Regions from separate parts of the Homo sapiens genome. Here region 1 is linked to region 2. Evidence: fine-mapped expression QTL. Tissue or cell type: whole blood. Region 2 holds a variant in brackets; the other region holds the start of a gene. All regions are shown on one strand. Distances are from middle to middle. Region 1 holds the start of ABCC4 (ATP binding cassette subfamily C member 4 (PEL blood group)). Region 2 overlaps ABCC4 (ATP binding cassette subfamily C member 4 (PEL blood group)).

Region 1 (8,325 bases), 57 kb after region 2:
TTTGGGAGGCCGATGCAGGTGTATCACCTGAGGTCAGGAGTTCGAGACCAGCCTGGCCAACATGGTGAAACCCTGTCTCTACTAAAAACATGAAAATTAGCCAGGTATGGTGGTGGGCACTTGTAATCCCAGCTACTTGGGAGTCTGAAGCAGGAGAATCACTTGAACCCTGGAGGCGGAGGTTGCAGTGAGCCGAGATCACACCACGGCCAGCCTGGCAACAGAGCTAAAACTCTGTCTCATAAAAAAAAAAAAGAAAGAAAAAAGAAAGAAATAGGTGAAAATACTACCTTTAAAAATCCACAATTGCCAACAGCCATAATGCATGACTCCTTTTAGACTCCAAGTCCAAATTATGCTATAAATACACCAAAATCCCGGGAAAATACTTTGAATAAAAGTCAGTAAGCCAGTTATTGGCATCATTTAGGTAGGCAGCTGCCAGTTCACAAGTTCAGAAAGCAGATGATATTTGAGAAGAAAAGCAAACACTCAACAAGAAGGTGAAAAAGCAGTTTTTCCCTACAAGGTGGGCCCTGTCTCCAGGCAGCCACTTCCTGGATGGGCTCATTTCAGCTTTCCACTGGCAGTGGGAAGGGTACACAAATACTGACCTAAAAGCAGGAGGCTAAGGCACAAAATATAACTCAAGAATTTACTACAGACCCAGTGTGGTGGTTCATGCCTGTAATCCCAGCACTTTGGGAGGCCGAGGCAGGCAGATCGCTGGAGCTCAAACTCCTGAGCTGTGGATTACAGTGTCCTTGGGGCACTGTTAGGTTAATCTGTAGCTATGTGGCAATATGAAGTACTTTCGAGTGATAAGTAAATAGCTCAAGGGGGTGGGAACTACGAGGTGACTGCTGTGTCATTTTAATGTCTCTCTGGGCCTGATAATTTAAAAGGACTCCGCATTCCTCAGATGATGATTATTATTATTTTCTCACTATGAGGCCTCAGACTTTAAAATCCCTCAAACTGGCCCAGGCACAGTGGCTCATGCCTGTAATCCCAGCATTTTTGGAGGCCAAGGCGGGCAGATCACCTGAGGTCAGGAGTTCAAGACCAGCCTGGCCAACATGGTGCAACCCCATCTCTACCAAAAATACAAAAATTAGCTGGGTGTGAGGGTGCACGCCTATAGTCCCAGCTACTTGAGAGACTGGGGCAGGAGAATCACTTGAACCCAGGAGGCAGAGGTTGCAGTGAGCAGAGATTGCACCACTGCACTCCAGCCTGGGTGACAGAGCTGAGCAACAGAGAAAGACTCCGTCTCAAAAAAAAGAAATAAAGAAATTTTAACAATTAAAAATAAAGAAAAGCATAATACTGTAATAATACTCCAATGAAAGGAGTAGCTGGAAGCAGTAAGCGCCTCAAATCAGGATCACCTGGAGCACTTGAAACCTCACCACCCCCACCCACACACCCAGTGTTTCCAGTTTTACTGAATCAGTCCAGAGTGGATGCTGGAGAATCTGCATCTCTTAGAATCTCCCAAGTGATGCCGATGCTGCTGCTCTGAGTGCTATGCTTTGAGAACAGCTGCCCTAAAGCACACTAATAGTTGTTACACATGCATCATCTCCAACTGCAGGTACTTTAAGAATTTCCCTTGAGAAACTCTAGCCTTCCAGAACAGGGAGCGCCTTCTCCATGCATTTCCGACAGCACCTGAACTGGAAGCAGCTCAGTACAGCAGCTCCAAAGAGGCTGGGGAGCCAGTCTGCCCAGCTTTGGAGCCTGCTCTGACACTTGATTGTTGTGTGAGTCCAGGCAACTTAACCACTCTCAGCTTAAGTGTCCTCGGAGTAAAACAGAGGTCTACTAGCTCCTTCCCTTCCATCAGGGAAACCGGAAATGAACACCTACTCAAGTCATCAATGGGAGCGCATCACTTCCTATTTCCCTGCCACCTACATTTTGAAAATGCAGGGGGAGAAAAATATAAGGAGGCAGGAGTCACATCTGTAATCCCAGACTTTGGGTGGCCGAAGCGGGAGGAACACTTGAGCCCAGGAGTTCAAGACCAGCCTGAGCAACAACATAGAGAGCCCTATCTCTACAAAAAAAATTTTTTTTTATTATCCGGGCATGGTGACACACACCTGGAGCCCCAGCTACTCGGGAGGCTGAGGCAGGAGGATTGCTTCGGCCCAGGAGTTGGAGGCTGCAGCAAGCTATGAATGTGTCACTGCCCTCCAGCCTGGGTCACAGCTTGCACAAAGCAAGATCCTGTCTCAAAAAAAAAAAAAAAAAGTTCCTTGCCCTGCCTGAAGTTGAGGAGACCATTTGTCTACCTCAAGTTATTATTTGCAGAAACCACACCCATATTCCTTCCTCCTCCACGTGCCCCTCTCCTTAAGAGAAAGGCCGCCAAACAACCAAGAGAAGTTCCTACACCCACTGAGTGTACCACAATCGAAACAAGAGTAAGCGACTCATCCTCTTGGAATCCCCTAGGTCAAGCTTGTCCAACCTGAGGCCCATGGGCTGCCAAATTCGTAAGCTTTCTTAAAACATCAGATTTTTTTTTGCGATTTTTTTTTAGCTCATCAGCTATCATTAGTGTTAGTGTATGATTAGTGTTAGTGTATTTTATGTATGGCCCAAGACAATTCTTCCAGTGTGGCCCAGGGAACCCAAAAAATTGGAGACCCCCACCCTAGGTTGTCCCATAATAAAAGGCAATATCAACATGTGGGAAAGATGAGGCGGCAGAGGTCAAGAAACAGAAGATCTAATAATCATCCAAGTGAGATTGAAGCCCTTCAAAGGTTCAGGCTTATGTAGTTAGCAGACGGAATTCCCCCACACACACCCGCCACTCCCCCAAGACGGAGTCTCACTCTGTCACCCAGGCTGGAGTACAGTGGGGCGATCTCAGCTCACTGCAACCTCCGCCTACTGGGTTCAAGCAATTCCCCTGCCTCAGCCTCCTGAGTAGCTGGGATTACAGGCGTGCTCCACCACACCCGGCTAATTTTTGTATTTTTAGTAGAGACGGGGTTTCACCATGTCAGCCAGGCTGGTCTCGAACTCCTGACCTCGTGATCCACCCACCTCTGCCTCCCAAAGTGCAGGGATACAGGCGTGAGCCACCGCGCCAGGCCAAGATGGAAATTTTAGTTACTACTGTCACCCGAGTCTTTCTCCGTTTGTTTCCTTGCACAAAATGGGTAGGGCTGTGGGCCCTCCCAGCTCAGGAGCCCTGGGGTGGTTTTAAGAAGGTAGAACTCCTGGTAGGAACCACCTGCATCAAGACCATGGATCACCTCTCTGAAGGTTAGCGATTCCAGGGACCCCACCTCCGAGCTGTCCTCCTACGTGGAAGTGAAAGTATTGGAAACAGGGGAAAGAAGCTGGTCAAAGACAGACTCCAGTCGTGGCGGTGCATGTCCCAGTTAAAAGCAAATCCTGGAAAATCTTGTTCAAGAACAGGGTCCCCATTCATAAATGAAAAATAATAATAGTGTTATTTTACCCACATGAAACTTGCCATAACTAGGTACCACGACCCACATGGACACACAGTGAGATTCCCACAAAGAGGCAAAAGGAGAGCCCTGGTCACTGAGACAAAAGATACAGAGACACCGGGACACAGAGAGGTACAACGGGACGTGGAGTTGGATCGAGCTGTCTCGTAAGGAATATCGGAAGGGGTGGGGACACTACTGGGAGATGGCATAGGTCCAGGACACTAATTAGGCTTTGGCTGAGATCAGATAAAGGAAACTGTTCGTAAGCTGCTTACTTAAAAAGAAAGGAAAAGGTGCGTTTGAGTTCAGGAGACTGCGAGTCCCAGAGCAGGAGGCGGGAGCCAGCGAAGGGTGGGCGTGTAAGGGGTGCAGTCGCTTCTCCCGCTGGGCAAGAGACTCCCCCTTTCGGCAGCCTGGGTTCCCCGCCTCCCCACCTCCTGCTCCTCCTCCCCCGAGCCCTAAGGGCCCGCAGGGCCTCCAGTAGCAAAGCCACTGGCCCCGCGTCCCCGCGTCCCCCTGCGCCGCGCCCCGGGGCGCAGGCAGGGACCACGCGGCCGGCGTGGGGGCGGCGCCACCCGCAGCAGAAAGCCCCGGCGTGGACCGCGTGGCGTAGGAAAGCGCTCCCCTCGCCCCCAGCCGCAGAGGGCTTGGGCAGCATCGGGCGCGGCCCCGGGAGAGTGCGTCCGCGGCGCCAGCGGCTGCAGGGTGACCTGTTTCGGGCGGGGACACTCACCAGAAGAACACGCGTGAGCAGAGGTTCGCGTCCTGCAGCGGGTTGGGCTTCACCTCCTGGTACACGGGCAGCATCTTGCCGGGCGGGGCGGGCGCGGGCCGGGGTCGCGCTGATCAGGCGGCGGTGGCCGCGGGCTCCGCTCCTGGACCTCAAGCAGGGATGCTGGGGCTCCGGCCGCCACGCCTGTCCGCTCGGCTGGAGCCTGTGAAGCAGCCGCTTCCGGGAGCCGGGCGCCGGCGGCACGCCCCGTCCCCGCCTCTCAGGCCCGCCGCCTCGGGGGCGCCCGCTACGCGCCGCCGCCTGGAGCCCGGGAGCTGCGCACCGCGTGCGAGCGCGGCCGGGACCGACGGGTGACGCGGCGGGAGGAGACGCGGCGGGAGGAGGCGAAGCTGGCGACGCCAAAGGGAGCCCAGAGCTACGCCCAGGGGTGAGGCGAGGGCCGCCTGCGCCGCTGGATGGAGAGGGTAGCAGAGCGCGCGGCAAGGAGGCCGGGTCCGGAGGTGCCCACGTGCACGAACCCGAGTGAAACTTTCCGAAATTCACTATCCGAGTCTAGGCGCCGACACAGAAGGTGGAGCAGGGAGGCGTCGGCTGTGCCCGCCCCTGCGCCGCAGAAACGCCCCCTCGGCTACGGGTTTGGGAAGACTGGGAGACAGCTGCCTCGTGCTCTAGCAGCCCGCCCCCTGGGCGCCTTTCCCTTCTCAGGACCAAACGACGGTGCCATGGGAGGCTCTTCAACCTGTGAGCCAAACATTTGACCTTGGACGACAGCAAAGTTTAGCCACAGATTATCCTTGTAGAGCTGCAAGACCTCAAGAAAGCCGGGTAACTCGAGAGTATGACCCAGATGAATTCGGGAGATGGATGAATGCTGTCGTCGATGGGGGCGGGCTTTAGGCATCTCACATGTTGCATGCTACGGTGGACCTCTGAGCTTTTTGCTGCCCCCTTAGATTGGGAAAGGAATATAAGAGGAAAGAGAGACTGCCTGATGATTTCTGTCGTCAAGCCCTAAAGCCTAACAGATAACAGTGGCAAACGACACGTGGGTTCCAGAATACCAGTGATGTTCATGTGCATTTCTGAGTGCGTAGCCTCACTAGTGTGTGTGTGTGTGTGTGTGTGTGGCAGTCTCACACACAGTGTCACGATTATGGCTCATTGCACCCTCGACCTCCCAGGGCTCAAGCAATCCTCCCAACTCAGTTTAAGTAGCTAGGACTACAGGCACCCGCCACCACACCCGGCTCATATTTTGTAATTTTTGTAGAGATGCAAAAATCAAAATCAAAGGCTCCAAGTTCAAATACTGATAATTTTTGAAGCCAAATGATTGTCATGGAGGTTTATTTTCTTCATATTTCATGCATGTTTGAGAATTTGGTTTTCTTTGTAATAAGATCATTTTATTGTTCCTTGATAATTTCTCACTTTGTTGCCCAGGCTGGTCTCAAACTCCTAGGCTCAAGTGATCCTCCCACCGTGGCCTCCCAAAGTGCTAGGATTACAGGCATGTACCACCACGCCCGACCAATTATCTCACTTTTAATTCTATCAGTGCCCCATTCAAGGTTATCCTTACTTTATAGATGAGGAAGGTGAAGCTGAAAGGCAGAACTTGTCCAGTCTTAGAGCCAAGAAAGGATAAAACATGATTTGCAATAAGCCTATGTCTAAGCATGGCCTGTCTCCCTGGTGGATGGCCAGTGTGCATGAGAAGTGCCCAGAATATGCTGGTTGAATGGCTGTAGGAATGAATGAACAAAATCTTGTTCCAAGCTTGTGTACTCCCACCTCTAAGTCTTCAGTCATTTCTGTGGCTACCTTAACAAGGTCAGCAGCTGCTCTTCATATCCACCCTGAATGAAAAAAAATGAAAGGCTCCAAGTTCATGGTGCTTGGAACAAGATCATTTTATTGTTCCTTGATAATTTCCCATGTATATTTGCTAAAATAGTATAGTTAATAGCTTTTAAAGAAAGCCTTACACAAACACATATTTAAAAGTCAAGCACAGGCTAGCCAGCATAGTGAGGCTCTGTCTCTACCAAAAGTTTTAAAAATTAGCCCAGGTGTGGTGGCGTACCCTTGTAGTCCCAGCTACTCGAGAGGCTGAGACAGGAGGATGGCTTTAGCCCAGGAGTTCCAGGCTACAAGGAGTTAAGAAGGTGCCCACTGGGCTGGGCACAATGGCTCACGCCTATAATCCTAGCACTCTGGGAGGCTGAGGCAGGTGAATCACCTGACGTCAGGAGTTCGAGACCAGCCTGGCCAACATGGTGAAACCCCATCTCTACTAAAAATACAAAAAATTATCTGGGTGTGGTGGTGGATGCCTGTAATCCCAGCTACTCAGGAACCTCAGGCAGAAGAATCACTTGAACCCAGGAGGCGGAGGTTGCAGTGAGCCGAGATCATCCCACTGCACTCCAGCTTGGCAACAAGAGTGAAACTCCGTCTCAAAAAAAAAAAGAAGGTGCCACTGCACTCCAGGCTGTACAAGCCCATAATCCCAGCACTTTGAGAGGTGGAGACAGGAGGATTGCTTTAGCCCGGGAGTTCTAGACCAGCCTGGGCAACATAGGGAGACCTCATCTCCACTAAAAATGTGAAAATTAGATGGGCATGGTGGAGTAAGTCTGTAGTCCCATGTAACCTGGAGGCTCAGGTGGGAGGATTGCTTGAGCCCAGGAGTTCTAGACCAGCCTGGGCAACAAAGGGAGACCTCATCTCTACTAAAAATGTAAAAATATGATGGGTGTGGTGGCGTGAGTCTGTAGTCCCAGCTGGAGGTTCAGGTGGGAGGATTGCTTAAGCCCAGGAGTTGGAGGCTACAGTAGGCTATGATCACACCACTGCCCTCCAGCCTGGGCTAAAGAGTGAGACTCTGTCTCAAAAAAAAAAAAAGTCAAGCACATAAGAATGGCAAAATATTGATAATTTTTGAAGCCAAATGATGTGTCATAGGGGTTTATTTTCTTACATTTCATGCATGTTTGAGAATGGTTTTCTTTTTGGAGATGGGCTCTCAGTATGTTGCCCAGGCTGGACTCAAGCTGCTGGGCCCAAGGGATCCTCCTGCCTCAACCCCTCCAAGTACCTGGGATTGTAGGCACTCGCCAGCATACCAGCTCATGTTTCAGAATTTCTGTCACAAAAAGGAACACAATATTTTAAGTTGACTACTGTGGGAAAGCTATGATCATTCAATAACCTACCTTTCTGATAGCTCTTTCTCAGATAATATAAGCTATAAACCAAAATAGTCAGCCTTCACCTGATTTACAGTGCCCTTTGAAACTTCCTAAGTTTTCTAGCCCAGTAAATGCTGAGCTACCAGTTCTACTTCCAAGCTAGAGAACCTGTTTACTAAAGTTAGAAGTCTAGTGACTTCCTCTGTCAGACTGTCCCAGAATGCTCTCCCTACCCCCAACAACTGTGTAAGAACCGTCATTAGCCATCTCCAAATTGCCAAAGTGCTCAGTCCCTTCGGCTCCTGCAGAGGCTTATTTTTTTCTTAATTAAGATCTTTTGGAACTTCTTAACATTCTTTTCTGAACATTAACAATGTGGTGTTTGGAAGAGATACTATAGAGCAGTGTCTGACTGCAGAGAGGAGTGGATATGGAACCAGGGGGCCAGGGCTTTATATCTTTTCACTTGTTACCTAACCTTTCTGACCCTTATTTTTCTCAGGTCTAAAATGGGGTCGGGGCGGGCGCAGGGGCTCATGCCTGTTATCCCAGCACTTTGGGAGGCGGAGGCAGACAGATCACCTGAGGTCAGGAGTTAGAAACCAGCCTCGCCAACATGGCAAAACCCCCTCTCTACTAAAAATACAAAAATGATCTGGGCGTGGTGGCATGTGCCTGTAATCCCAGCTACCTGCGAGACTGAGGCAGGAGAATTGCTTGAACCAGGGAGTCAGAGGTTGCAGTGAGCCGAGATCATGCCACTGCACTCCAGCCTGGCGACAGAGCGAGATTCTGTCTCAAAAAAAAAAAAAAAAAGATAAAAATTAGCCAGGCTTGGTGGCATGCGCCTGTAGTCCCACCTACTTGAGACGCTAAGGCAGGAGAATTACTTGAACCTGGGCTGCAGAGGTTGCAG
Region 2 (8,325 bases):
ATCATTTCTCCTGCCTTTCCTATAGGTGTACTGTAACTCAGAGTATCAAAGAGTTGATAATGGCAAAGTTTCTCTTTATGCAAATATTTCAGCTAATAAATGAGGAACTGGAATATCACCACTTTGCAAACTCCTAACAAATTAATGCATCTTAAGCAATGATCATGAATGGCTCCAAATACCACACACACATAACCAGACCTAAGCGAGGTATCTCGAAGTGGCAGGTGGTACACACCCTCACCTACAAAGTACTCTTGCCAAAGGGAGGAGGGGGGAAAATAAAACCTGAATCACATCAAGCTTCTAGATCTAACTACTAACTTCTGGTACCAGATGGACATGTTAAATGATACAGCATGCAAGGATGTAGAGGGTCACAAGAGGGGAGGAGGGATATGCAATGAGCCCAATCTAGACCCTGGGAATCCGTGCAGGGCAAACAACACGGTTTCTTCAATTAGAAAGTACACACGCGGCTGGGCGCGATGTAATCTCAGCACTTTGAGAGGCTGAGGCAGGTGGACCACTTGAGGTCAGGAGTTCGAGACCAGCCTGGCCAACATGGTGAAACCCCATCTCTACTAAAAATACAAAATTACCCGGGCATGGTGGCAGATGCCTATAATCCCAGCTACTCAGGAGGCTGAGGCAGGAGAATCACTTGAACCCAGGAGGCAGAGGTTGCAGTGAACCAAGATCATGCCACTGCACTCCAGCCTGGGCAAGAGCAAAACTCCATCTCAAAACACACACACACACACACACACACACACACACACACATCTTCAGAGGGGGCAGTGAGCAGGGCTTCATAAAAATCAAGAGTGGTCATGAGTTGATAGTTACTGAAGCTGGCTTAGGGGTAGAGAGAGGCTTAGTATTCTATTATATTTTATATTTTTGAAATGATCTTTAAAAACCTAAGAAAGATCCCAGCATTTTGGGAGGCCGAGGCAGACGAATCACTTGAGGTCAGGAGTTCGAGACCAGGCTGGCCAACATGGTAAAACCCTGTCTCTACTAAAAATACAAAAATTAGCTACATGTGGTGGTATAAGCTTGCAATCCCAGCTATTCGGGAGGCTGAGGCAGAAGAATGGCTTGAACCAAGGAGACAGAGGTTGCAGTGAGCCAAGATCACACCACTGCACTCTAACCTGGGTGACAGAGTGAGACTCTGGCTCAAAAAACAAAACAACCAAAGAAAGAAAATACCACATGAGGCTTGGCCTTGGCCCTCATGTCAGGCAGCTGAACAAGAAATGTAGAATTGAAGTTATTAAAAACCACCTCATTGGCCAGGCACGATGGCTCATGCCTGTAATCCCAGCACTCTGGGAGGCCAAGGTGGGTGAATCACAAGGTCAAGAGATCGAGACCATCCTGGCCAACATGGTGAAACCCCATCTCTACTAAAAATACAAAAAAATTAGCTGGGTGTGGTGGCGCACACCTGTAGTCCCAGCTACTCAGGAGGCAGAGGCAGCAGAATCACTTGAACCTGGGAGGCAGAGGTTGCAGTGAGCCGAGATCGTGCCACTGCACTCCAGCCTGGTGACAGAATGAGACTCCATCTCAGGAAAAAAAAAAAAATACACATCTCATTTCTCAAAGAAACATTTAGATAATCTTCAACTATCTAAAATACAAAGACCAACAAGCAGCATAGATACAAATGGAGAAGCTGCCTGTGTCCTGGTTTGGCCCACACAGAGGATTCCCAAGCTCCTCCTTCCTCCTGCCCCCCCTGCAGGCTCTAAGTGGGTGGATACTTGCTCAGTCTCCAGTCCCCATCACAGTCTCCATGGAGGTGCACATAGGGGACAGATGTGCTGGAAATTTGCGGGCTGTTCTGTTCTAATTAGCATTTGCCTGGAAGAGCACCATGTTCACCATTAGACTAGTACTTGTTTCTCTGGGCATTATAATCATTCCTCAACTCTGACAATCGTTCCTAATCTCACTTGCATTACTTTGAAATTCCAACCTCAAAGACTCCCCGCAAACTGGTGTCACCATCTCTCTTCCTGCTGGTGCCATCATTAGTACCCAGGGAAGGCCCTGCTTGCCTTCAGCTTAGTTAAGAGTATATGGCTAGGGAGTTATGGATCCACTGCACAGTTGTTCTGTAACCAGAGGAATTAACCCATCTGTGCCTAGCATTCCATTATTGGAACACTAAGCTTGTGGGAGTTTATATTCTACTGTTCAACCTCATCGCCAAGGTCTGATCTTTCACACACAAAAAAAATTGGCAACCTCCGGCATAAGTGGGTTAAAAAAGGCCTGAAAGTCATCACAGAAGCTTTTTACTAAATGCTAGGTTAAGTTTAGAGCTTCCACTATCCAAAATACGAAGATCCACAAGCAGCACAGACACAAGACCAAAAAATGAAAAGCATCTTCATTAAATCAACTGTGAAACTAACATTTGTTCTAACTCCATAATTTTTTTTTTTGAGACAGAGTCTTGCTCTGTCACCCAGGCTGAAGTGCAGTGGCGTGATCTCAGCTCACTGCAACCTCCACCTCCCAGGTTCAAGCAATTCTCCTGCCTCAGCCTCCTGAGTAGCTGGGATTACAGGCGCCCACCACCATGCCCAGCTAATTTTTATATTTTTAATAGAGATGGGGTTTCACCAGGTTGGTCAGGCTGGTCTCGAACTCCTGACCTTGTGATCCGCCCGCCTTGGCCTCCCAAAGTGCTGGGATTACAGGCGTGAGCCACTGCGCCTGGCCTAATTTTCTTTTTTAGAGACAAGGTCTTGCTCTGTCACCCATGCTGGAGTGCAGTGGTGCAATCATAGCTCACTAAAGCTGGGAACTCCTGGGCTCAAATAATCATCCCTTGGCATCCCAAAATGCTGGGATTATAGGCATAAGCCACCATGCCTGGCCAATAAATAGCTTTAATGATTGAAAACCCAAAACAACACCTGAAATGCTTTTGAGATGTTACACTCACTACCTTCATCTTAAGAAATTATTTCTCTCCAACTTCTCCAAAACAGCCAAGTGTCAATAGGCAAGGCTGGGAAAACAATAGTATTTATACTAGAATTCAGGCTGTTTTCACTGCTAGAAGGAAAAGAAAAAAAAAAATCCAAGGATTACTTTGAGTTGAACTGGGAAGAGCTTTAGCTCCCTGAACTTCACTGCATCGGAACTAAAAGTTCTACCAGTTATTATGTTAAAGACACAAGGTTAAAATGAGCATCATCCACTAGTCACCATGATCCTCTAAAGAATAACTGACTACTGTCTAATTTTATACCATAAACCACCAAGATATTGGTGTAAACACAGGACCAACAAGTGCTCTCTTGTGAAAAGCCCAGGCTCCACTTTATATGAGAGGTGCCTGCCGCCAGCACTGTGTGGGTCCATCTTAACACCTTAGCCTGCCGCCCTAATACCTGGGGCCCACCTTGCTAGTGGGAGGGTTCAGATACCAGGACAGAAGAGCTGTCCCCATACTAGTGACTCATCTGGGGTCTTCATCCTTGCCAAGCAAACTGCACACCCACTTCACGATTCAGGCCAAAGGCTTCTGAAACTGCAGAGATATCATTGCTATGCAAGAAACCCAGAGCCTTTGATAAGTAAAAACAGGGAACTTGACATCCGCCCAGACCATCAGTCAATGTCGTGACCATGCAAGACCACAAGCTTCCCCCTCGTCCATCCGAGGAGGAGACAACTGGGAATGGTGTCTTAACAGCGTGGATGTTGATGAACTTGGGTCAGCAGGGCTGCACGCCTCACACATGTGGAGGATGGTACTCAGTGGGAGACAGGTTTCTAAAGGGTTCTTGGTCAGCCAGGCACAGTGGCTCACACCTGTAATCCCATTAATTTGGGAGGGCGAGGTGGGCCGATGGCTTGAGCTCAGGAGTTCTAGACCGGCCCGGACAACATGGTAAAACCTCATCTCTACTAAAAATACAAAAAATAAGCCAGGCATGGTGCATGCCTATAGTCACAGCTACTCAGGAGGCTGAGGTGGGAGGATTGCTTGAGCCCAGGGAGATGGAGGTTGCAGTGAGCTGAGATCACACCACTGCACTCCAGCCTGAGTGACAGAGTGAGACCCCACCTCAGACGAAAACATAAAAAAAAAAAAAGAGTTCGTGGTCAACCTGAATGTACCTTGGTGCTCTGACCTGCCCAGCACCCCAGCCACTCTCTAGCATGTCACCTGACTTTCCGGCACCAGGACACCTAGGAACCTAGGGTAATTTATAATCCCCAATCTGATTTCCCACAGCCATGCCCCACTGTTCCAGGGAGCTCTTAGCATCTGACTTATCCCTAGGCCAAGTTCAAGAAGCATGTGCTGGATACTCTGAAGACAGAGTTCTCAAGACACCTTTACGACAGTCTGGAGATGGTTAGGTCCCTAAGTCAGCGCTCCTGAGACTGAATCTGGGCTCTGTCATTTACACTTTGTGTGGCCCTAGGCACATTATATAACTACATGGCACCCAGTGTCCTCTTCCCAAAAGTAGGGTTAAAAGAATGCCTTCTGACTGAGCATGGTGATTCCTGCCTATAATCCCAGCACTTTGAGAGGCCAAGGTGGGAGGATCATTTGAGCCCAGGAGTTCAAGACCAACCTGGGCAACATAGTGAAACAAAAATACAAAAATTAACCAGGCATGGTGGCGTGCACCTGTGGTCCTAGCTACTTGGGAGGACTGCTTGAGCCCAGTAGGCCAAAGCTGCAGTGAGCCAAGATAGCACCACTGCACTCCAGCCTGGCAACAGAGTGAGAC[C/T]CTATCTCAAAAAACAAAATAAAATAAAATAACATGAAAGAAAGAAAGAAAGAAAGAAAGAAAGAAAGAAAGAAAGAAAGAAAGAAAGAAAGAAAGAAAGAAAGAAAGAAATCATAGCAGTTCCTGGTACATAGTATTTTTCAAGTACTCACTGTCAGTATTATTACAACTATTGCTACTATCACTGCTGCTGCTACTACTACTACTGAGTACCAACCACTACTAATCCTGCTGCTGCTTCTACTAGCACTGCTGCTGCTAAGCAGTACTGAGCATGAGCCCCCATATTTGCCAGGTCCTCCACTCCCTACTTTTCTGCCATGACTGCCCAATAACCACCCCGCTAAAAGACCAGCTCTCCACCAACTGTACCCATATTAAAGCTCCCCTCGATCCGGGCCCCTTCCCACATGCCCACCAGCAGTAAAGATTACCATGCTCCTTGCACCAGAGTGGGGCCTGTCCTCAAGTCTCAGGAGAAATTCACGCTTCTACAGCCTCTACTTCTGTGCCTGCTTCTCCCAAAAGCTTACCCAAATCTCACTGTAGTCCAGTCACCATCTGTGGGTTAGAGACCCCACCCCAAGTGGCTGGCAGCCCATGACAGCATGGACAGCCCTGAGCATGACAAGCTCAGTTCCTTCTAAATCATCCTGTTTTCAATTTCATAAGCAGCTGGTGACAAAGGGAAACTAGAGAAATGGAAGTAGCTGAGGGAGGCATGCCTCGAAACCTATGTGAGGCCATTGATTCCCACTACACCTAACCAGACACCTGGCATGAGCCTTAGACACTTACAGAGGCTCCATGGCTACCAGACAACTTCTCTGAGGTTGCACAGCCAAACTGGGCCAGGAAATCCTGCACACACTGGCCACATTGACACCGACTTGTCATTCTATTTCTTTCCAACTGAAACTGATCGGGGCCATGTGGAAACACTATCGCTGGGACACCCCAGCACAGGTTGAAGAGGGGCTGGGAGAACCTGAGGGGCTCCTAGCCCTCTTCCACCCTCAAGTCAGTTCCACCGGTTATTCTGCATGTCCACCCCATCTGCCACAAAGCCACAGTAGCATGCAGGCAGGGCGGGTACCCTCTCAAAGGTGGCATTCACCATCTGGCACCCTGGCCAAAACACCTTTGTCACCAATGAGACCATTCATCTCCCAGGACCGTCCAGTCCCCTGTTGTCTGACAGATTCCTCTGGTGTAGGGCAGAGCTCACCTACCTGCCTCCCACTGCCCACCGTGCCCTCCACAACAAAAAGCATGTTCAACAGGAGCAAACCCCCCCACATACAAACCAACCCCCTCCCCCCACCCACCTCATTCCCAACAAAATGCACCGTGACAACTCCCCATCCTGCATTTAAAGCCACCCTTTTGTAACAACAGCAACATCCACCCCTCTAACTTTAATGGACCACTGACATCCCTAAGGTAGCACAGAGGACACAAGTCACCCAGCAGGACCCTCTGCATCTCCTCTAGCAGGCCAAAGACCAGAACGGACAAGCTACCTGGCAGTGTGCCTAGGCAGAACACTGTCTTTCTGCAGATCTCAAGAGAGGCCCTTCGGGGTAACAGAGGTTATTGCCCTTCTGGCTGTCTTTGATTTTTCATGGAATGTCCATTTATACATTCTCTGCAGGGCCAGGCACCAAGACTCTACCTTCCAACCAGCAATCCACTCCGACAACAAGGAAGACACACCGGATGGGTGTGATGAATCCCCTTGGGTGCACAGTCCTCGGACCTTCTTCCCAGAGGGGATTTTGGCTCCCAGCACCTGGGCCCACTGGGAGGGGGTAGCTCTTGGGTGCTTCAGCCAGCTCCAGCCTCTGGGGCACCACCGCCAGCCCAGGTGCAAGGCCCTCAGCTCTGTTTCCCCGAGAGGGGAGAGGTGACAATACCTCTCCAGAAGAGCAATTATCAGATTTGGCTTGGTGAACAATTATTTGTTGAGCACCTGTAAAATGTCTTACATTATTCTGGGCTCCGATCCAAAATCACTTCCTCTAAACCACAGGGCACGCACTCCTCAAGGCTGTAGGATCCTCTTTTGACCAGGAGTGACTCTTAGCATTTAAAACATTTACCGAGCACCAACATTGTCCTACCATAGAATAAAATACTCTTCTTCCATGACACTGCATTTTAATTGGTTACAAGAAAAACAATAATGACCTTGAACTTCAGTCACTTAAGTATTCACCTGGATAAATACGCTCACTGAACTAACTACCTAATACTTCCTAGACATGTTTAATCCTTAGACCTTAAAATACCTTCAAACCCCATCTGGCCACTTCTCCCTTCTGTTCCCCCATCCATTACAGCACCAGTCAATGGCGAGCACATTTACTCTATGTGTCCTGAAAAACAATTCATGGTATGTAAAAGCTTTTACCTCAATTAACGTAAAAATTCCCAAAACTAAATAAGATTTCCAGTAACACTTTATGATTGCTCTTGTTAAAGAAGGCTTCTGTGCGTCATTCTCAGCTCTTAAAACTTCTTTATCCCAGAACCTACAATGAGGAAAAAGCTTCGTAAATAAGAGTGAACCCTGCCACAATATAAAACAGGGGAGATGGCAGAGTGACAGGTATGCATTTAAGACAGGGCATTTTGTGACGATTTCATAAATGCTACTAATTGCTCCCAGGGCTCCTGAAGGTTATGTGTGGTACAGAATCTGGAGCATCAGAAAAACAGGCCTTGAGGGGAAGTCTGGGGAAACAAGTTACTGCCAAGCTTTACTGGATTGAAGCCCCATCAGTAGCACAGATAAGCCAGACAACCTCCTCCAACCACAACACTTCCACCTAGAGGGACAGACCTCAGGCATCTCGGGCCTTTGGTGCTGGCTCCCCTGACCTCTACGGAGGCACAGGCAACAGGAGTTTCCCCCAGGCCACCATGGTAGGCTGAGCCTAGGGGCAGCCTGAGGAAGGTGACACATATTCACCTTAAGGGTAAACGGAGGCTCCAGACAGGACCCAGGAAGGCAAAACCCACTCCCCACACACAGACACCCACGCTTCCTTAATGCCCACTTTACTGCCTCCGACTTACCCTTGCAACTCCTCTCCAAGGTGCTGTGAGCGGTCTTCTGGCAGCACTGAATACATATCATCTTCCTCTAATCTCCGTTTATGGCCAATTTTAAACAAGGGATTGAGCCACCTGTTAACAAGAGAAAAGAGACATATATCCAGAATTACACATCCGTGTTTAAGTAGACTCCTACCTCCATGGGTTTTGCTTAAACTTACCTTTAAAATACATACAGCTATATATAGACAGACAGATATGAATATATAGAGCTAGAGAGAGAAAAGTTAACATGTGCACACACACACACACACACACAGTCCCTAGCTCTATCCACAGACAGGCCCCAGAAGCAATGACACACCAGTAGCTGAGAGCATGCTGGTGCCCAGATCTTGGTTTCCAAAACCATTATTATCTAAAAGGAACCAGAGCTTCCTGAAGAAATAGCTGATTCAAAGGCTGGGGCAGAAAAAGATGGCCCATG

What was found. PIP is the estimated chance that this variant, and not a neighbour inherited with it, causes the effect.
Region 1: ABCC4 starts here. The variant in region 2 is fine-mapped to the expression of ABCC4 in whole blood (TOPMed, PIP above 0.99).

The regions. Positions count from the first base shown.
Region 1 is chr13:95,297,026-95,305,350 of GRCh38, forward strand. It overlaps ABCC4 (ATP binding cassette subfamily C member 4 (PEL blood group)), which reads right to left and starts at 4,426. Exons shown (of 31, transcript NM_005845.5): 1 at 4,216-4,426. The coding sequence starts at 4,289. LOC102724149 (a long non-coding RNA gene) reads left to right here and starts at 3,926. Exons shown (of 3, transcript XR_429273.4): 1 at 3,926-4,238; 2 at 4,921-5,301. RefSeq lists enhancers at 2,709-2,768, 4,371-5,145 and silencers at 3,962-4,601, 4,632-4,691, 4,872-4,931.
Region 2 is chr13:95,239,784-95,248,108 of GRCh38, forward strand. It overlaps ABCC4 (ATP binding cassette subfamily C member 4 (PEL blood group)), which reads right to left. Exons shown (of 31, transcript NM_005845.5): 2 at 7,860-7,970; 3 at 7,192-7,312. Among named protein-coding and RNA genes, the nearest start is that of SNORD13G, 34 kb to the left of the region's middle. RefSeq lists an enhancer at 5,190-5,269. The variant C/T (reference allele first, on the strand shown) is at 4,779.